Linked DNA regions of Homo sapiens. The protein of the gene in region 2 purifies or fractionates together with the protein of the main gene of each other region. This does not show direct contact. Each region holds a gene or a part of one and is shown on either strand. Other genes may lie near its edges.

Region 1 (7,026 bases), on a different chromosome or scaffold from region 2:
ATAACAACAATGCTGCTTCTGGATTGTTTTTTCTTTTTCTTTCTCTCCCTACTCCCAGCAAATAGATGTATCTGAACCACAGTCACTTATCAAATATTCATAGATTTAGAATGTCTGAATGTAGCTAGTTGCTATGAGAAAAAAAAAAAAGAAAAGAAAAGAATTGAAATAAAGACACACTATAGACCAAAAGGGTTAATAGGATATTTTGATAAATCCCTGATACCTGCTGGCTCAACTTCAGTGCCAAAGAAAACACCAACTGTAAGGTCCAAGCTGGAGCCATTAGTGACCGGAAAGGGAAAGGTAGCAAAGGTCTACTTCAGCCCTCTCTTTCTTACAAAGGACCAGCAAACCAAAATAAACTGCCTTTTCTTATATAGGTGATTAATTCTTAAGTACCTACAGTAGGCTAGGACAAAGATTCCATGGCTAACTGGCAGAGGTAGATAAAAACACTTGTGTTACTCAAAAACCAAGTAAATACCTAATCAAAATTTCTAGCACACCAGCTAATTAGTGATCATATATTTTTGAGTTTTAGCACCTTTTTATTACCCTCTTCATTAATCCAGGCAATTTTATCAACTAGTACCCTGGCGAAAGGCAAATAATGGAAAAGTAAAAATTAGGAAAATGGGAGGTTCCAGATAGTTTAGACAGACCATAGTAGTAAAAGGACAAAACTATCTAAAGTTTGTGTAATGATATAAAGAAAATCTAAAAAGAATTTTTTTTTTAATTTTTATAGAGACAGGGTCTCAACAGGGTCTCGCTCTGTCACCTAGGCTGGAGTACAATGGCATGATCATAGCTCACTGCAACCTCCAACTCCTGGACTCCAGCAATCCTCCTGCTTCAGCCTCCCAAATAGCTGGGACTATAGGTGTGCACCACCACACCCAGCTAATTTTTTTTTTTTTTTTTCGGTACAGACAGCATCTTGCTATGTTGCTCAGGCTGATCTGGAACTCCTGGCCTCACAATACTCCTGCCTCAGCCTCCCACATGAGCTACCATACCTGGTAGGACATTATTTTTAAGCTCCCATTAGGTGGAAATCAAAAGACAAAGCTTTTAGTAACAGTTCTTCCATAAACTAGCTGTGTAACCTTAGGCAAGTCACTCTGAATCCCAGGTACAGTTTTCTAATCTACAAAAATGACTGGAAAAAATTATTTCTAAGACCCTCTCCACCTTAAGTTATTCCACTAGTGCAAAATTTAAAAATAAAGACTCTTATGGTTTGGATGTCTGTCCCCTCCAAATCTCATGTTGAAATGTGATTCCCAATGTTGGAGGTGGGCCTAGCGGGAGGTGTTTGGGTCATGGAGGCGGATTCCTCATGAATAGCTTGGTGCCCTCCACATGGTAAATAATGAGTTCTCACTGTTAGTTCATGCCAGAGCTGGTTGTTTAGAGCCTGCCACCTCCTCTCTCTCTTGCTCCTGCTATCCCCATATGACTTGGCTGCTACCTCTTTACCTTCCGCCATGACTGAAAAAAAGTTTCCTGGGCCTCACCAGAAGCTGAGCAGATGTTGGTGTCATGCTTGTACAGCCTGCAGGCCCGAGAGCCAAATAAGCCTCTTTTTTTTATGAATTACCTCAGACAGTCCTTTAGAGCAATGCAAACAGGCTAACACATAGACTTTATATAGAATATGAGGTACAAAAAATTTTTTTGAGTCCCCCAGTTCATTATTTGATTCTTTTCACAATCATTTTACAAACTATTCTACCCAGATGTCAATTACTAATGTTCCAAATAATGGCTTCCCTATAAAACAATAATCATAATCAAGTTATTTTAATAAAGTTTTCACTAACCTGGTGCAACTACATTCACTCTAATTTTCTTTCTTGCTACCTCTTTAGCAAGAGCACGTGAAAATCCAACTAATCCTCCTTTACTGGCACTGTAAACGGACTGGCCAGAGTTGCCTTTTAAGCCAACAATGCTTCCTAGGACAAAAAAAAAAAAAAAAAAAAAAAAAGCGTATTAAATTCAATTAATGGGGTTACTTGAAAATTTAGATAATTTATAGTAAACAAAAAGGTAAAACCCACTTCACCTTGTCCTTTGTTAAAATTAGAAATTCTAACCATTGTCATCAGTCATTTACGGAAGATTTAAGAGTCCAAGTCTGCTCCAGATACATACAGAAAATAGCATCTGAAAGCAGCTGATACAAAACTGCCAATGCAGGTGCTTGCGAATTGATTCACTACGTGAAGGGGATGCACTCTAATCTCTGAGTAGGTCAGATATGATGAAAATTCTGTGGTATTTATAAAGGCTTCCAGCAGGTAGAGGTTAAAGCCAGAAAAAGTCAGACAAAAGCTGACTAATTTTATGATTCTACAACACAGACATAAGGCAGAAAGCTCTCGTTTTCACCCTAAAAACTAGTTCATTTGAAGCTAAATCTCACTAAAATTGAATTACATGCATAACTCATTTTATTGTTCTGCTTTATTGTGCTTTGCAGATATTGCATTTTTTTTTTTTTTTTTTAACAAATTGAAGGCTTGTAGCAACCTTGCAACAAGCAATTCTATTAGCACTTTTCCAACACCATGGCTCACTGTGAGCAGTGCTCACTCTGTGTCTCTTTGTCACATTTTGGTAATTTTCATACCATCTTAAATTTTTTCATTATTATTACATCTGTTATAATGATCTGTGATCAGTGATTCTTGATGTTTACTGCTGTTGGGGTGCCACAAACAAAATATTACTGCTCACTGACAATGCATCTGGTCACCAAAGAGCTCTGATGGATATGTACAAGGAGATTAATGTTGTTTTCGTGCCTGTTAACACAATATCCTTTCTTCAGCTCATGGATCAAGGGATAATTCTGACTTTCAAGTCTTATTTAAGAAACATTTTATAAGTCTATAGCAGTCATAAATAGTAATTCCTCTTAGGAATCTGGGCAAAGTAAATTAAAAGCCTTCTGGAAAGGATTCACCGTTCTATATGCCATTCAGAACATTTGTGATTCATGGCAGGTCAAAATACCAACATTAACAGAAGTTTGAAAGAAGTTATTTTAACCCTCATGGATGACTTTGTGGGGTTCAAGACTTCAGTGGAGCAGAATTACAAGTGGAGCCTGAAGATGTGACTGAATTGCTGCAATCTTATGATAAAACAAATGGGTGAGGAGTTGCTTCTTATGTATGGATAAACAAAGTTGTTTCTCAAGATGGAATCTCTTCCTTGTGAAGATGTGAATACTGTTGAAAGAAATGACAAAGGATTTAGAATATCCTATAAACTTAGTTGATAAAGCAATAGCAGGGATTGAGAGGAGTGGCTCCAATTTTTAAAGATCTACTTGCATAAAATGCTATCAAACAGCATCACATGCTGCAGAGAAATCTCTCACGAAATGAAGAGTCAATCAATGTGGCAAATTTTGTCTTATTCTAAGACTTGGAACCAAATCAAATGTGCAACAATGACAGACTGGATTAAGAAAATGTGGCACATATACACCATGGAATACTAAGCAGCCATAAAAAATGATGAGTTCATGTCCTTTGTAGGGACATGAATGAAATTGGAAATCATTCTCAGTAAACTATCGCAAGGACAAAAAACCAAACACCGCATGTTCTCACTCATAGGTGGGAACTGAACAATGAGAACACATGGACACAGGAAGGGGAACATCACGCTCTGGGGACTGTTGTGGGGTGGGGGAAGCGGGGAGGGATAGCATTGGGAGATATACCTAACGCTAGATGACGAGTTAGTGGGTGCAGCACACCAGCATGGCACATGTATACATATGTAACTAACCTGCACATTGTGCACGGTACCCTAAAACTTAAAGTATAACAATAATAAAATAAAAAAATAAAAAAAATAAAGAAATTGCCACAGCCACTATTATCAGTCAGCAGCCATAAACATCAAGGCAAGACCCTCCGCCAGCAAAGATTATGACTTGCCAGAAGCTCAGATGATCATTAGCATTTTTTAGCAATAAAGTATTTTTTTAGCAACAAAGTATTTACATTTTTTTTAGATATAATGCTACTGCATACTTAATAGACCATAATATAACTTTTACATGCACTGAGAAACTAAACAATTGGATAAGACAAAATTTGCCACATTGATTGACTCTTCATTTCATGAAAGATTTCTCTGCAGCATGTGATGCTCTTTGATAGCATTTTATCCAAGTAGAACTTTAAAAATTGGAGCCTCTCCTCTCAATCCCTGCTATTGCTTTATCAACTAAGTTTATAGGATATTCTAAATCCTTTGTCATTTCAACAGTATTCACATCTTCACAAGTAGATTCCATCTTGAGAAACAACTTTGTTTATCCATACATAAGAAGCAACTCCTCACCCATTTGTTTTATCATGAGATTGCAGCAATTCAATTTGTGTGACTTACATTCTTGACATATTCGCTTTATTCCGGTGGAGCAGAACCAAAGCTACAATATCTGCGAGACATGCTTGTACTGTCAATCTAAATTGGCAAAGCTTCAATTATACACTTTTTGTAAAAGTGCAATTTCATTACATTCAGTGATATATTGTAAACTGTACTGCCTACTGAAGATTCTTGAGTGACCACATCTAATGAATATGTAATAATAATTTTTAATTCAAATATCAACTATATGCAAATAAACTCTTGCAAAACAGAAGTGGGGAAGTAATTTTCTGCACCACTGACCTGTACTTATGATACAAAAATTAATCAAGGACCTCACAAAATTTTTTTAAAGTAATTTTAAAAAAAGAAAACATTCCAAACATTTCTCTATTAGAATCAACAAGTTCAGTATTAGAATATTTATCTACATTATATATTGTAGGCCAATTAATAACAAAGGAAGAGAACTGTGAAGTACACAGAGAGAACAGACATCAGACTGAAGAAATGCATATGGATAGAGGGGTGTTTATCAGAAAGAAAAATACAGAGACACAAAAAAAGAAAAATACATGCACGAAAAAAATACCAAAACAGGGCTGGTCCGATGGTAGCGGGTTATCAGAACCTATTAACAGTAGTGTCACTAAAGTTAGTATACAACCCCCAACTGCTAAATATGAGTGGCTTTTAAAAGAAAAAAAAACACAAGCTGCTTTAGCAGCTTTGATTCGTGCCACGCACTACTGTTCATCAGGTCAAAAAGTGGTAATTTCTGAAATACCAATGAAGTGTCTGGCAGTTTAAAGTAGTCCTTCCTGTAGTAAGATTCTCAATTTACTATCTATTATTTACTTTTAGCTCAATTCTAAAAGTTTTGCATGCATAAGGAGGACTAATGGGTTTTTTAAATACACCTAAAAAAAAGAAGATTTTAGAGTTAAACAAATATACCTCAGGTTATCAGGTGACAGATACAGGCCTGTTTGCCTGCTTGTAAGTATCCAAAGTCCTTATCTGGCTGTGTTAAAAGGCAAAGGTTGACTCATTGACTAATCTCTTACATAAGAAAACGGATCCCTTAAATTTTTAAGAGTAAATGTCCAAAATGCTCTCATGTCCCCTTAGTTTATTAGCATAGTATTCTTTCCTTTTCTCACTTTCAAAACAGAAAAACTCTAAATTCTGGCTTGAAAAACCATTTCCTACATTTAAAAGAACAGGGTCACTTACTTTTATGGAGCAGCATCTCCCTTCTGTGGCCTTTTAAGGTATTACCATTTGAAAATAAAAAGCAGATGGTATACTATTATTTCCAAATTACCAAACTGAAATAAAATTTCAAGTCATTTTGCATTTTAAGTTCTACAGGCATATACTCCACAGCTTATCTGCCCTGTGGGTTAGATGAACTGAAAACTAGGGGTTACTTACATCCATTCTTAAAAACAGAGAAATTTTATCTTCCTTTAAACCTCTACACAAGATTTAACAGTAACCCATGAAACTGCTGTAGACAATATTATTTAGCCACCACTGTCTACTTTAATTCCTTGTCCATGTTTTAAAAATCAGGTTCCTGGCTGGGCACGTGGCTCACCTCTATAATCCCAGCACTTCGGGAGGATCACTTGAGCCCATGAGTTAAAGACCAGCCTAGGCCACATAGTGTGACCTCGTCTCTATTTAAAAAAAAAAAAATTCACATAAAAATCAGAATGATCCAATTTCTCTTGAAAAATCAAAATTGCTGGCAAAACTGGGACCACATTCTTGCACGGCAACAATCTACTGAATCTAAGTGGTGGCCTCCACCATTCCATATGGGCTCTGGACAATGAAGCTGGATATCATTTATCACATGGCTGGTACTGTCATTTTTCTAGTACTCAGTGGTGTCACTCATTTAACACCTGCCTGACTCCTATAGGGATGTGAATGTGTGATTCTTATTTTACTCATTAATCAATTAATTAAATCCTTTTTTCCACAGATAATATAAATTTCATTCATGTTTCACAATAAATCACAAATTCGTGGATTAAATATTTTTATGGTATGGTATTATGGGATAATCATAAATTCACAAAGGTGAAGACTCACCTACATTAACAATAGACCCTCCCTGTTGTTGAATCATAGTCCTCATGGCAGCTTTACAGGTCAGCATGGAACCCAAGAGGTTAGTATGAAGCTGAGATACCATATCTTCAGTTTTTGTTCTTACTAAAAGACCATCCCTACAAAAAGAAACAGCATATAATAGCATATAATAACAAGATAAAAACCAAAAAGGTCAAGACTAATGTAACATTTTTACTGAGAGTGCAAGAAGTGCTTCCTATCTGAGCTAGAATAGCTAGAATACCTAGAGTCCCATTTTGAACTTGGCTTGAGAAACATTAAAATAACAATTGATAAACCAGAAAGGATCCACTTGGAAGACAGGTTGCTACCCCTTCTCAGCTTGAGTGGCAAATATTCTTAACCCCTAAAAAGTAGTAACATATAGCCAAAATAGTTTGAATGGCCTGAGCAACTGCCATACTAAGCCTTGTTTAGCAAGAAAATTAATATGTTATCTAAATATTCTCTCCTAAATTCATCTTTTAAAAA
Region 2 (6,856 bases):
CTTGACTGTCCCTACCGAAGACAAGTCTCTGGCTGTGCCCAGCTTGATATCCAGGGCAGGGAACTCTGTGCCTGTGTCCAGTTGGGATGTGTTTGGTGTGGCTAAATTGATAGCCAAGCTAGGTCTGTTGGTGGCCATTGTGGCTAAATGTCTGGCTGCGTCTGTCCTTGTGTCCATAGCAGTCAAATTCACAGTCGTGTTGGCCCTTTGGAGACGCCCCCGGGGTCTGGGGATCCCCCTGGCCCGGGGCTTGCCTTTTCCTGGAGAAGCTCTGGTAGGCATGTGGTCAGTCACTGAGACAAGGTGCCCCTGGCCCAACGAGCCTGGCTCTGCAAGGACTGGTGCACTCTGGGCTAACCGGGATTGGAAAGGTAAGGCTAGGTAGGAACTCACCAGGGGCTTCTCCGTGGCAAGCATCCTGTTGGATTTGGTCAGACCTGGGTTCCCTGGGCCCTCAGAGTGGACCCTGCCCCCTGGCACTAGGGTCACAGGTGGCGAGCCTGGCGAGGACACCCTCCCTCCTTCATGGGGAGCAGCCTTCTTTCCTGGGGTAGGCAACTCTTCCCAGTGAGAAAGTGGGCGATCCAGGGACCGTGCCTGGCTGTTCTGATGGAGAGTCAAGGAGATGGAGCTGAGCTTCCTGGGTACAAGGCTGCTGGTGGGCAGGGGGCTCAAGGAAGCCCCCAGAGCGATGCCCGTCTCCTGTGGGGGCACACTCCGGGTCCTGGCTCCAAGGCCCAGCCGGCTGGAGGTCTGTGGGATATGGCTTTGGGGGAAGGTATCCAGATGGATGGTCTTCCTGAGGACGGGGGTGAGGGGGGACCCTCCTCCAGGGAGTCTCGAGGGGCGGATAGGGCGCCCCAGCACATGGCTATGGGAGAAGGAGGTTCCCGGGCCTGGAGCTCCATGCGACTGCATCTCTGGAGGAGCAGGAGCAAAGTTGTGGTCCATCCAGGTCGTTTGTCTTTCCCTGAGGCAATCAACAGAGAGAAGAGGCCAGGCAGGGGTGAGGAGCTCAGGCCTGGAGGTCTCAGCTCTCCCCTTCCTGACCAGCAGCTGAGCATGCCGGGTCTGAAGGGGCCTGGTTCTGGGGACTGTCCAGTCCTTAGTGGAGGATGCATGTAACTTCCTCCTGTCCTCCTACGGCTCCTACCTGCTGCAGACTGATCTGTACCTCATACCTACCCCACCCCGGCCAGCCACCACACAGTGGGGTGGGCACGTCCAGTGAGCAGTCTGCCTCCAGCATGGGGCATCTCAGGCTGGGCTTACGTCTCCCTTTGCCTGGGCCTGAGTGTGGCCCCTGTCTCTGTGGACAGCTCTATGGAGGTCACATACATGTTCAGGGACTCCAGAGGAGGGCAGTGCTTACTGGAGACGTCTCTCCCTTTCTCTTCCAGAAAGAACCAAAGGGCTGTGGGTTCCCACCCACAGCAGCCAACATAGGAGCTCAGGTGTCCAGGTGGCAGGATGAGAGAGGACCAATTTGGCTTAGAGCCCCAGAACCAAGAAAGAGCCCTGAGCTGGCCTAGTGCTGGAGTCAGAAACAGAGCCAGCCCTGGAGAAGGTGAGGATGGGAAATGGAGAGGCAGTGAGTGTTCACAGAAGGAGCTTATCTGGTGAACAAGCCATGGTCCCCGCCCTTGAAGAGGCTGCCATGCCCAGGGATGCCAGGCAAGGAAGTAGGCAGGGCTCCACCAAGCTAAGCATTAGGGGTAGAAAGGCGGGAGGCTAGACCTGAGCTGGGGCTGTTCCTACAGAAGGCCCAAAGGTGAGAAAGTGTGGCATCTTTCTGAAAATCCAACATGGGGCTCCTAGGCTGTATGTAGCAGGGAGGGGAGAGCCAAGGCTGCAGGTGAGCTGGGGTCCAGGCCAGGCTACAGCAAAGTTTAGGCCAGGGAATGTGACCCATTCCGATCTGTAGGTGGGAACGGCCACTCGGGCAGTGTGACAGAGGGATCAGATGGGAACAGAATTGAAGCCAGGATCCCATGAGGACATAGTTGAAACTCTCTGCTCCGTGGGCTGTGCAAGGGGCAGAGCTAGGGCTGGGGCTGGAGGAGGCTGCATTGCACAGGGGTAGAAGTGGCGGGACTGCCCAGGGTAGGGAGTGGGCACAAAGAGGTGTCGAGGATGAAGCTCAGGACTCTGGCTGTGGTCTTAGTAGATGGGCCACTCCCTGCTACTCTGGACTCCAAGTAACTCACCCTCTAGAAAAAAGTTGGTTTGGTTGCTTTTAACACAGCAGGCTGGGACCTGCAGCTGGGGGACAAGGCCAGGGCTGGTGGGAGGAGTCAGTTCCAGAGGGCTCATGGGGAGGGGAGTGATCATGTAGCCAGGTCCTTGAGGTCTGCAGCAGGGACGGGGAAGGCAGGGCACCGGACAGGGAAGGCATCACCCCTCACAATGGTGCCCCCAGCCCCTCATCCCTCTCCAGCCATATATTTGTATCCAAGACTGTCCTGGCCTCCAACCCTTTCCCACCTGGCCTATCACTGCAGCCCTGAACTTCTGCCCCCTCCTGCACAGCCACATCCACTTGGGCACACACGTTTACCCTGCACTTAGCCACAAACAGCTCCCCTCAGTGTGCACACCCACACACAGAGCAGGCCAGAGGACAGGGTGTCCGAGGGCATCACCCGACTCCCCATCCCCTCACTGCACTCCCATCTTCCATGGATTGCTTGGTCCTTCCCCACCCCACCCCCACCACCCTCCCACCCCCACAAACCCCCACACCCTTCCACCCCCCTACACACCTACCTTGATCAGAGGACAAGAAGGATCCAGTGTGTCTGGGAAGATAAGGCACACGCAGGCCCCTCACCTCCCCTGCACTCAGAGTCTGGCCATGGTGGCCAGCTTAGGGGCCTTGTCCCTCTGGTCCCCTCCTCAGCTCCTGCTCAGCCTCCAGGCCACAGTCCCCAGGCACAGGGCCCAGCCCTCTGCTCACTGTCCCACCAGCTACATCCCCGGAGACCGTGCTGGGCTGGGCTCTGGTGCAGGGAGGGGCTGGCTTCCTAGGAGTGGGCGGCTGTGAATGGCTGCTCTGAGCCTCTGGAATCCTGAAGAGCCATGGGAGGCTGGTAACGGCCAGGCTGGCACTCACGGCCACCTGCAGGGAGGTTCCCTGCAGCCTGCCCTCCCCAAATCTGCTCTGTCTCCCACAGACTTTGATGCCTGGGGAGTCTGCAGTAAAAACAGGGGTACTCCAAATATGGCTGCACTCTGGTAGTCCCAGCGCGAGTCTCCCTCTGGCTCTGCCTCTGTGCCCTTCATGCCCTGTTCAGCTCTGCAACCCTCAGACCATCTTGCCCACTCACCTGGTCTTTCCTCAAGGGGGCTGGAGTTCCTGGAGGCTAGAGCTCCTTCCACAACTATTCCCTGAGCCCCAGCTTGCTCCAGCTGGACCCTGTACCCAGACCCTAAGGGTGTGAAGAGGACCCCGCCCTAGGCCTGCCCCTGAGGGGACCACAAAGCCACCCAGCCTGGCTCTGGCAATGCCGACTCTCAGCAGCCCCTGGCCCTGGGGCTGGGATGGGAGCCCTCTTCTGTGTTCCCACAGCCCTCGGCTGCCTCTGTCATAGCAGTGGTGATAATAACAATGGTGCTGATAACAGCTACTATTTCCTGAGCACTTGCTCTGTGCCCGGCACCATGCCAGGGCTGGGCGGAGCTCACAGTCTGCTAGGAAGATAGGTATGTAAACAGATCCTATAGTACTGTCCTGTACGGTGATGGCAGATGTCCTCCGAGCACTCACCCTGAGTCAGGAACTAGGCTAAGCATTCTCCTGGCATCTCCTTTAATCTCCGCCTCATCACCTGCTTTTTACCGAGGAGGACATTGCAGCCCACACAACACTGTGTTGTCTGGTCTGCTCTCCTGTGTGTCTCTCTCTTTAGCGAGTGAGCTTCTGGAGCTGCGCTGGGCAATACAACTTTCAGTGATAATGGAAATGTTCTATGTCTGTGCTGTCCAGTACAGTAGCCACTAGCCACAGATGGCTACCGATCACTTAAAATGTGTCTACAGTGACCAAGGAACTGGATTTTTTAGTTTATTTTAATCTGTGGCTACCATATTAGCTCAGCTCTGTTTCGTTTGTTGTTGCTGTTGTTGTTATTAGTTTTTTTGAACAGGGTTTCACTCTGTCGCCCAGGCTGGAAGACAGTGGCGCCATCATGGCTCACTGCAGCCTCTTGGGCACAAGTGATCCTCCCACTTCTGCCTCCAGAGTAGCTGGGACCACAGGCATGCACCACCACGCCCAGCTAAGTTTTTATTTTTTGTAGAGACGGGGGTCTCCCTATGTAGCTCAGGCTGGTCTCGAACTTCTGAGCTCAAGCAATACTCCTACCTCCACCTCCCAAAGTGCTGGGATTACGGTCGTGAGCCACCATGCCTGGGTGGAAAGCTCAGTTATGAAGGTCCTGGATCTTCTTCTCTGGGCCCCAGGGTCTGGCAAAAATTGGCTTCAGTAAGTTTCTTTTTCTTGAGAGTCTCACTCTGTCACCCAGGCTGGACTGCAGTGGCGGGATCTCAGCTCACTGCAACTCCGCCTCCCGGGTTCAAGCCTCAGGATTCTCCTGCCTCAGCCTCCCAAGTAGCTGGGATTACAGGTGTGTGCCACCACGCCTGGCTAATTTTTGTATTTTTAGTAGAGACGGGGTTTCACCATGTTGGCCAGGCTGGTCTCAAACTTCTGACCTCAAGTAATGCATCTGCCTCAGCCTCCCAAAGTGCTGAGATTACATGCATGAGCCACCGTGCCCAACCGGTAAATTTCTTTAGAAAGAAATAATGAATGAATGAATGATTGAATGGTGATTGTGTGGGCCTAGCACCCATCCCTCTTCTTTTTTTTTTTTTTTTTTTGAGACAGAGTCTCGCTCTGTCACCCAGGCTGGAGTGCAGTGACGCCATCTCGACTCACTGCAAGCTCCGCCTCTCGGGTTCACACCATCACACCATTCTCCTGCCTCAGCCTCCCGAGTAGCTGGGACTACAAGCACCCGCCACCACGCCCACCTAAATTTTTTGTATTTTTAGTAGAGATGGGGTTTCGCAGTGTTAGCCAGGATGGTCTTGATCTCCTGTCCTTGTGATCCGCCTGCCTCGGCCTCCCAAAGTGCTGGGATTACAGGCATGAGCCACCGTGCCCAGCCCCTATCCCTCTTCTTATCCTTTCTCTCCCCTTACAGCTTTAGGTTCTCAAACTTGGCTGGGCTCTGGTTACCAGGGCAACGTGCTGGGATCCCAGTGGATGGGGGAGGGCAGCTATCTGGCGCTTCCATGCTTTGAGGCCCTGAGAACTGGCCTGACTTAAGGAAGAACAGAGGGTGCTGGGAAGGAGAGGCACAGCTCTGCCTGGACGGATTGGAGCAAGGGAGACTTTCCTGGGCCCAGCCCCATTGGATTACATGATCTCTGTGAGATAAGCAGCCTTGGGCTGAAATCAGTGGCCCTGGGTTCTCTCCCCACTTTGGCCAACGATTCACCAGGCAACGTCTATCAGATTAACTTGTGCTTCTGGGACTCAGTTGCCTTTTAAAATAGGGATCAGATGCCCTCATGTGGTCGGTCTCTTCTACTTCAAGATCTACAATTCCTCCATCTCGCTCCCTGCCAGGCTGTTAGGGCCTTGAGAGCAAGGCCTGAGTCATGTTCATCTCCGCATCCTCCTGCCCATCTGCCCTGCTTAGAGGCTTAGAGGACACTTCCTGCCCAGTAATTACAGGCCAAGTTTCAGCTGCCCTCTAGGGGCCCAAAGTGACAATGGCCCTCTCCTATCTATACATATGGTGCTTTCCCATCAAAGGAAAGATCCATAGGCCTGGAAGTGGCCTCAGAGAACAGAGGCCTCCACTCAACCACAAAACCATTGTGGTGGCCTCCCAGACAAGTGTCATAGGCTCTGGAGTCCTTCAAGCCTGGGTTTGTTACAACTATGTGATTTTCAAACAAGTCAATCCCCCTGAGCTCCCCTCTCATCTGTAAAATGGAGATTATATCAGTCAGAATGAGTTAAATTATGCTGCAGTAACAACCATTCCCAAATCCCAGTGGCTGATAACAACATGCTGATTTTTTTTTTTTTTTTTTTTTTTGAGACAGGGTCTCACTCTGTTGCCCAAGCTGGAGCGCAGTGGCACTATCACAGCTCACTGTAGCCTCGACCTACCCAGGCTCAGGTGATCCTCCCACCTCAGCCTCCTGAGTAGCTGGGACTACAGGCATGTGCCACCACGCCCAGCTAATATTTCTTCTTTTTTTTTTTCTTGAGATGGAGTTTTGCTCTTATTGCCCAGGATGGAGTGCAATGGCATGATCTCAGCTCACTGCAAACTCTGCCTCCCAGTTTCAAGCAATTCTCCTGCCTTAGCGTCCTAAGTAGCTGGGATTACAGGTGTGTGCCACCACACCCAACTAATTTTGTATTTTTAGTAGAGGCAGGGTTTCACCATGTTGATTAGGCTGGTCTCAAACTTCTGACCTCAAGTGATCCACCCTTCTCAGCCTCCCAAAGTGCTGGGATTACAGGCGTGAGCTGCGTCCAGCCTAATTTTTCTAATTTTTGTAGAGACAGGGTTTTGCCATGTTGCCCAGGCTGGTCTAAAACCCCTGGCCTCAAGCGATCCTCCTACTTCAGCCTCCCAAAGTACTGGGATTATAGGCCTGAGCCACCACACCTGGCCGCAATGATACATTGATTTCTCATCCATGTCTCATGTCCACAGTAATTTGGGTCCACTAAGGCTCTGCTCTGTGCCCTCTTCCCTCTGGGACCCAGGCTGCCTTCTAGTGCATTGCTAGTCATGTGGCAGAGGGAAGGAGGGAGTGACAAATTGTG
Region 3 (7,026 bases), on a different chromosome or scaffold from region 2:
CCTGGCAGAGACAGGGGCTGAGGGAGGGAGCGAGGGAGTGGAGGGAGAGGAGAAGGGAGGCTGCTTTTCCCCAGGGGCTGCAGCTGGAGGGCTGGAGCCAAGTAAGCACTGAAGGGGAAGCAGGGAGGGAGAGAGGGGGAAGGATGAACCAACTACCTGGAGCAGCTGGAGCTAAGAGCCGGGGGCAGAGGGGAGGAGAGGCCTGGTGAGTGGTGGGTTGATCGCTGCATCCAGTGTAAAGCTTGGGGCTGCTGGGGAGGGAGGGGCCGAGTAAGGGACTTTCCCATCTGAGTGGCTCAGGAGACCCACCCCTCTCCCCTCAGAGCAGCAGGGGACAGAGAAAAGCCATCACTTCTTTGGTCTTTGTGGCGGCTCAGCATGTGGGATGGGAAGGAGGGCAGAAAGGGCAGAGAAGGGCCCTTAGCAGGAAGCGCCACCTCAGCAGAGTAGGCCTGGCTGGGAGCTCTGGCAGAAAGGTCACAGTGAGGCTGAGGAGCGCCCAAGAGGAGAATGGCCGTAGTGCAGAAGTGCTGGCATGGATGGGTGGGGTAAGGTGCAGTGCCCCACCCTCTGCCAGGGCCCTTGGGAAAGGCAGAGCCTCCAGAGGTGGCCAGTGAGAGTAGGTGCAGGGCCAGAGCTAGTAGCCAGGAGAGGAGCGAGGGTGCTCCACAGCGACCTCAGCAGGTGGCCTGGTCTTGCCCACTCCAGGGCTCCCATCCTTCCTTTGGGCTCCGCTCTAACACTGGTGGCTCTGGAGGGAGGGTGGGACCCATCCTTTTTCAAAACCTTTCCTGAAGACCACAGGGGAGCTAGCCTTGCAGGCTAGGGAGCAAGAGTGGCAACAGGCCAAGGCGAGCCCTTACCAATTGGGAATCCCACTCCTCCTGCTGCTGCCAGCTAAAGGGCAGGACAGTCCCTGAAGACAGTTCAGCTTGTTCCTCCCCACCTGAGGCAGAAGGGGTTTTGAGGCAGGCCAGAGCCCTCCAGGGACATGAAAGCAGGAGATGGGGGGGGGCATATGGAGGGGTGTCCCCTCCTGCTCTTTTTTTCAGGGCTGGGGATAGTCAGGGGACAATCAGCCCAGAGTCCGAAAGCCAGCAAGTTGTAGCAACCTCCACCCCTAACGCCAAACTAACAAACAAAACAGGGGAAATGAAAAAAAAGGGTGGTGGGGAAGACAAACCAAAACAGAATCCCCTGACCTCCTGCCCAGGGCAGAGGGTCCAGCCAGTAGCAGGGGCTGGGGACCAGGGCTGGAGGGTCTAGCTGGGCCGGCACTGCACCTGGCCCTCAGAGCTGTCCTCATCATCAGAGGCCCCGGCACCCCCACTGCTCAGGCCCGTGATCCGGTAGCCCATGTTGAGCAGCATCACCTCCAACGGGTCTGCATTCATGCGCCGCTGGTTGGCCTGTGAAGCACCCTCCATATCTTCCACGACTCGGCCTGTGAGGTCTTCACTCTGTGGTGGAGAAAGGGGTGACACACGTGGGGCTCAGGGAGGGAGAGGCACCAGGGTACACGTATAGGGGAGGGGGAGGGAAATACACAGACTAAACTATCTATAGGGGGAGGTACACATACATGCCAGGAGGTGTATATGGTGGAGGGGAACACACAACCTTGGCTACATATTGTTGGGGGTGCTCACGCTGGAATATATATGGGAGATACGCCACCTCAGGATATACAGGCAGGTCATAACATGCTGGGATATACGTGGGGGACAGTACACACCAGGATATGTTGGACACACATACTGGGATACCTGGGACAAGGGGCAGATACAACTTCCCCACCCCATTCTGTTTTGTTGCCACAACTCTTGCTTCATCTTTCTTTCTCCTCTCCTCTCAATGGGGAAGCCTATAGGGGTCCTCTCTTTAAAAGTCACAGCAAATTATCTTGGGAATCAGACATACCACTTGACTTTTGTTTTGCCAGCTGGGAAGAGGGAAGCAGTAGGGCAGAGGGGAAGGGGAGGCACCAAGCCAGCTTCCCTGGCTACCCACCCTGGGAGTGGAGGGGACTCCACTGTCCTAAGTGTCCTTGTGGGCTGGACACTTCACAGGCATCTCTTCTTTACTTCTCACCACAACCTTTCAAGGTGGTGCTGTCATTCCCATTCCCAATGTACAGATGATTAAAAGCCTGGGTCAGAGATGGTGAAGTCTCTCAGGCAGCGAGTGAGGAGACTGGATTCAAACTTAGGCCTACCAGATGCCAAAGCCTGCATAGTTCCCTTGTGACCAGGGCCTCTGCACAGCTTCTGGAGAATTGCTGCTGCATTTGGAGCTTCTGGAATCTGAGAACACAGCCTTGGGCCCCGGGGTAAGGCTTACTTAGCAGCTTCTAGCCTCTGGGTGGCTCATTTCTCTTCCCTGCGCTAGCAGGCTCCACTGGAGCCTTCCACAGAGTCCCTGCCCTCCTCTCTGCTTGGCTCTGCACCCTCACCTCTGGTCGGGGGTTCCAGAGCCGCACAACAGGATCGATGCCACTGGTGGCCAGGAAGCAGTAGCTGGGGTGTGGCTGCAGGCAGTTGACAATGGACTCATCCCCTTGGAGCACACGGACCAGGTTGGTGGTCTCCTTTTCCCAGATGAAGAAGGAGCCATCGTCAGAGCCACTGACGATATACTGAGCGTTGCTGGCGGGGGGGCAAAGGGCAGGGAGGTCAGGTGGGGTACTGCCCTACAGCCTCAAGTAGAGGCTGCATGGCCTAGGTAAAGGGGGAGCAAGGAAGTCTGCAGCCACTCAGTCCCCCACACGCTGGGGTGTGCACTTGACCCAGAATTCCTCCAGGTATATAGCCCTGGTCACTGTTCTCTTAAACCTAGGGCCAGCGACTACCTGGATTTCTCCAAGACAGTCTCCCCTATAGTTCATTATTACCTCCTTGGGCCAGGATCATCTTACATCATCTCTCGGGTCTCCAAAATACCCTGTTTTAAGCCTCCCCTGAGCAGTTCCAGGCTTCTGGCATCCAGACTCCCCCTGCCCCTCACACACCACTGACATTTAGAGGGCATCTTGATGGATTCTTTTTTTTTCTTAGAGACAGGGTCTCATTCTGTCACCCAAGCTGGAGTACAGTGGCATGATCATGGCTCACTGTGGCCTTAACTGGTCCTCCAATGTCAACCTCCTGAATAGCTGGGACTACAGGTGCACGTCACCACACCCAGATAATTTAAAACATTTTTTGTAGAGATGGGGGTCTATGCTGTCCAGGCTGGTCTCAAACTCCTGGGCTCAAGCGATCCTCCTGCTTCAGCCTCCCCAAGTGCTGGGATTACGGGCATGAGCCACTGTGCCTGGCCTATGGAGAGATTCTTGATTCATGTTCATGTGTCTCACCTACCCAAAGAAAGTACATCTACAAATGAGGGGTGGGGATGATGGTGTCTGAAACACAGAGTTTGTCCCTTAGTACACAGGGCACAGTTTTGAGCACAAAACAGATGTGCCAAGATTCCCAGCCTTGGAGGGCTGCTGCCTCATACTCTCAAGCAGAGGGAGGTTCCTTGAATGCAGATAAAGAAACCAAGCTCTGGCACATGCAGACAGAGGGAGAAGGAGGTGGGGGATGAAGGAGTAGTTCAGGCACTGCGCTGGAGGCTCTACTTGGGTTATCTTATTAGTCCTTGTTATGGCCTCATAAATGGGCATGGCAGGTTGGTCATTTCATAGATTAAAAAACTTTAGAGGCTGACAAAGGTGAAGCCATTTGCCCAAGGGTACAGAGGCAGAGCAGGGATTTGAGATTCTTCTCTGAAACCATTATGCCCCAACACTCCCCACTCAACCTCCCGCTGCCAACTGGGCTGCACCCTCCTCTTCAGGGCCTCGGACCTGCCAAAGAAATTGGCCTCTTTGATATCCGTGGTGGTGTTGCAGTGGCCGCAGTAGCGGAACTGATAGTCGTAGCTTCGCTCCCGCAGCACCATTTCATCCTCTGAGATGGAGTCCTTGCGGCTCGTGCTGCGGAGGCGGACTGGGGCGCCGCCACCAGGTCCCTTCTTCTCCTCTGGGGGCAGAGATCCAGAAAAGGTAAGCGCCTTGTTCCTTTCTCTCCTTCCCTATTTTCCCCCACCTATGGCTCTGTTTTCAGTCCAAAGTCTGACAACATAGAGCTACCTGCCTCCACCCTTATCCTGGAAAACTGGGGAAAGGTTGTGAGGAAGATGCATCTTTGGATCTAGCCCCTGAGGATGTTCAAGAGGAGACCTTTGATGCCAGGAGGGCCCTGGTTCAGGTCCCTAAATGAGGGCCTGAAAGCCCCAAAGATGCAGAGACTCAAAGTCTGTTTCTGTGGAGGTAAGAGGCAGGGGAGGGTAGAGTGAGGCACTAGCAAAGAGAGAATGGATGACTTTTTTTTTTTTTTTTGAGATGGTCACGCAGGCTGGAGTGCAGTGGCGTGATCTCGGCTCACTGCAACCTCCACCTCCAAGGTTCAAGCGATTCTCCTGCCTCAGCCTCCTGAGTAACTGGGACTACCAGGCACGTGCCACCACGCCCAGCTAATTTTTGTATTTTTAGTAGAGACGGGGTTTCGCCACATTGGCCAGGCTGGTCTCAAACTCCTGACCTCAGGTGATCCACCTGCCTTGGCCTCCCAAAGTGCTGGGATTACAGGCATGAGCCACCGAGCCCAGCCTGGGTGACTTTTATAAACAGATTCATGGCACTTAGGGCAGTAAGGACCATGCCCTTACCCTCTGGAAGACAAGTTATTAGGGTCCCAAATGAGAGTCACTGATCAGTTAAGTGACAGGTAAAGTCACACAAGTTTTCTCAGTTCCTTAAAAGTGACTCACTCATACCTGCTTCAGGGCCTTGGAGCATGCTGGTTCATATGCCAGGAGCTCTGCATCTCCCACAGCTACATTTTGTTGTTGTTGTTGTTTGAGACAGGATTTTGCTCTGTCACCCAGGCTGGAGTGCAGTGGTGTGATCATGGCTCACTGTAGCCTTGACCTCCTGGGCTCAAGTGATCCTCCTGCCTCAGCTGCCCGAGGAGCTGGGACTACAGGTGTGTGCCACCACCCCTGGCTAATTTTTTTTAATTTTTCTTTTGTTGAGATGGGATCTTGCTATGTTGTCCTAGCTGATATTGAACTCCTGGGCTCAAGCTATTTTCCCACATCAGCCTCCCAAAGTGCTGGGATTATAAGCGTGAGCCACCGCGCTAGGCCACACAGCTATATTTTGTATCTAGTTAATGCTTCCTTTGGATCCTTTAGATCTTAGTTTAAATGTTTCTTCCTGAAGAACCCCAGAATGCCATCAAGCCCACCCCCTCCCAGCATGCACACCATTCAGGTCCCCATGGCACTTGTCATACTTTTTTGTTTCTCCTTTATCACTTGGTTCCTTCACTAGACTGTAAATGCCATAAACACAGAAATTCCACGTGACTTAGTCACAGCTCTATTCCCAGGACCCAGCACAGTGCCTGGCACATGGCAGGTGTCTGATAACTATTCATTAAACAAATTAATTTATCACGTGGTTGGTAAACTGCAAAGGAGAGAGGTGAAGATCCATGTCTGCCTCCTATGAGCTCACCGTTCACGTTTACAGACCACACTCCGATGGCCCAGTTCATTCTCCAGCACACTGAGGGGAGCTGGGCAGGGCTTCGTGCTCTTTGTGCAGGTAGGTAGAGAGGCTGTGCTTTCTTCAAGGCCACACAGTCAGGTGGTGGAGCTGCATTTGGAACCGAGGCCCCACATTCCAAGCCTGAGGCATTTCTACTGCTCTGCGCTATTGTCTCTGCTGCACTTGTACACTCGGAACAAACACAATGACCAGCTTCTGCCTCTCAGATGCCCAAGTGGAACCACCAGGGCCCTGTCTAAGCAGGTGTGAATGCCTAGCGGGAGCCTGACTGAGCTCAGCTTCCTCCTATCCTGGGCACCAGGCACTCCCCCAGGTGCTTTAAACATGCCATTTAAACATGCTGATCCTCAATAGAAACGCTCAGTGGGAGGTGCTGGCATGCCTCCTTTTCAGACCAGGAAACACTCTGAGAGAGACACCAAGTAACTGCCCCAAAGTTGCATGGTTTCTGAATCAACATCTGAACCCAGGCCTCTCCAATCCCAGAACCATGACCTCTCCAGAATGTCATGCAGCATCTCAAAGAGAAAGAGTAACAGCACCCCCTCCTCAGTGCCCACTCACCACCATCATTTTTAGAGAAGAGGGCAGCTGTGATGTCGCGGCCCAATGCATCACAAGCGCTGCTGTGGGCCTGCTCCGGAAATTTCCCTTTGAAGTCGTCCAGGCACTCCAGGGCTTCAGCCACATACTTGAGCTCAAAGAGGCAGCGGGCCAGGCGAAAGTGTGCCTTCAGGTGGCATGGGTTTAGGGAGATGGCCTTGAGGCAGTCCCTCAGGGCATCATAGTGGTCACCATCCCTGGGAAGGCAGGGAAGAGCGGCTTGGAGGTGGAGCCACGTGGCAAGCAAGGGGTCCCCATTCAGTCTCCTCTGCTTCCTGTGGCCACCCCAGCCCACCACTGACAGATCTCATGGCAAGGGGACTTGAGGACGAAGAGAATCCTGGCTCAGCCCAGGCCTCCCCCATCAGGAGACAGAGTATGGTTAAGGAGCAAGCCAGGAAACCCTGAGGTCTTGAGGGTGGCAAAAGCTGGTGTCAGGCTGCCCTCTGCTGGGCACAGAGTGCAACTGCACACTGGCTCACCCCAGGCACCCGCAGCTCTGCAGCAGAAGGCCTGGCATCTTGCCCACCACAGGCTCCCCAAGCCCTCCTTCTCTCTTCCCCCATCCACCTTCTCAAATCACCCCCGGCTGGCCTTCAAAGCCACATCCAAGGCAGGGGGCCCTCAAGGACAGTTCTGTGGTCTGGGGAAGCCAGAAGTGTCAGGCTGGGGACGCAGGGTCTGACCAGCAGGCAGCAAGCCCTCAGCCAGACCCCCCCCTGTCCTGGCTGACTGATCCACAGCAGCTGTGGCCTCTACCTCCTGGGGCTGGAGGATGGGGCCTGACAGTCTGGCAGAGTCAG

What was found. The genes of interacting proteins can lie anywhere in the genome.
Region 1: the proteins of SEPTIN3 (region 2) and CBR4 purify together in Homo sapiens (affinity purification with mass spectrometry; 4 studies listed by BioGRID and IntAct, with this or other methods). This does not show direct contact.
Region 3: the proteins of SEPTIN3 (region 2) and WDTC1 purify together in Homo sapiens (co-immunoprecipitation; 3 studies listed by BioGRID and IntAct, with this or other methods). This does not show direct contact.

What each region holds. Positions count from the first base shown.
Region 1 is NC_000004.12:169,000,242-169,007,267, forward strand, and holds part of CBR4 (3-oxoacyl-[acyl-carrier-protein] reductase), read right to left. Parts: intron 6,651-7,026; coding exon 6,514-6,650; intron 5,674-6,513; coding exon of another isoform or gene 5,644-5,673; intron 1,965-5,643; coding exon 1,830-1,964; intron 1-1,829. UniProt on the Homo sapiens protein: Component of the heterotetramer complex KAR (3-ketoacyl-[acyl carrier protein] reductase or 3-ketoacyl-[ACP] reductase) that forms part of the mitochondrial fatty acid synthase (mtFAS).
Region 2 is NC_000022.11:41,965,588-41,972,443, reverse strand, and holds the start of SEPTIN3 (neuronal-specific septin-3), read right to left. Parts: upstream 3,002-6,856; 5' UTR 2,767-3,001; intron 971-2,766; 5' UTR 952-970; coding exon 1-951. UniProt on the Homo sapiens protein: Filament-forming cytoskeletal GTPase. May play a role in cytokinesis.
Region 3 is NC_000001.11:27,300,620-27,307,645, reverse strand, and holds part of WDTC1 (WD and tetratricopeptide repeats protein 1), read right to left. Parts: intron 6,421-7,026; coding exon 6,185-6,420; intron 5,708-6,184; coding exon of another isoform or gene 5,421-5,707; exon of another isoform or gene 5,147-5,420; intron 4,026-5,146; coding exon 3,851-4,025; intron 2,646-3,850; coding exon 2,453-2,645; intron 1,461-2,452; coding exon 1,263-1,460; 3' UTR 1-1,262. UniProt on the Homo sapiens protein: May function as a substrate receptor for CUL4-DDB1 E3 ubiquitin-protein ligase complex.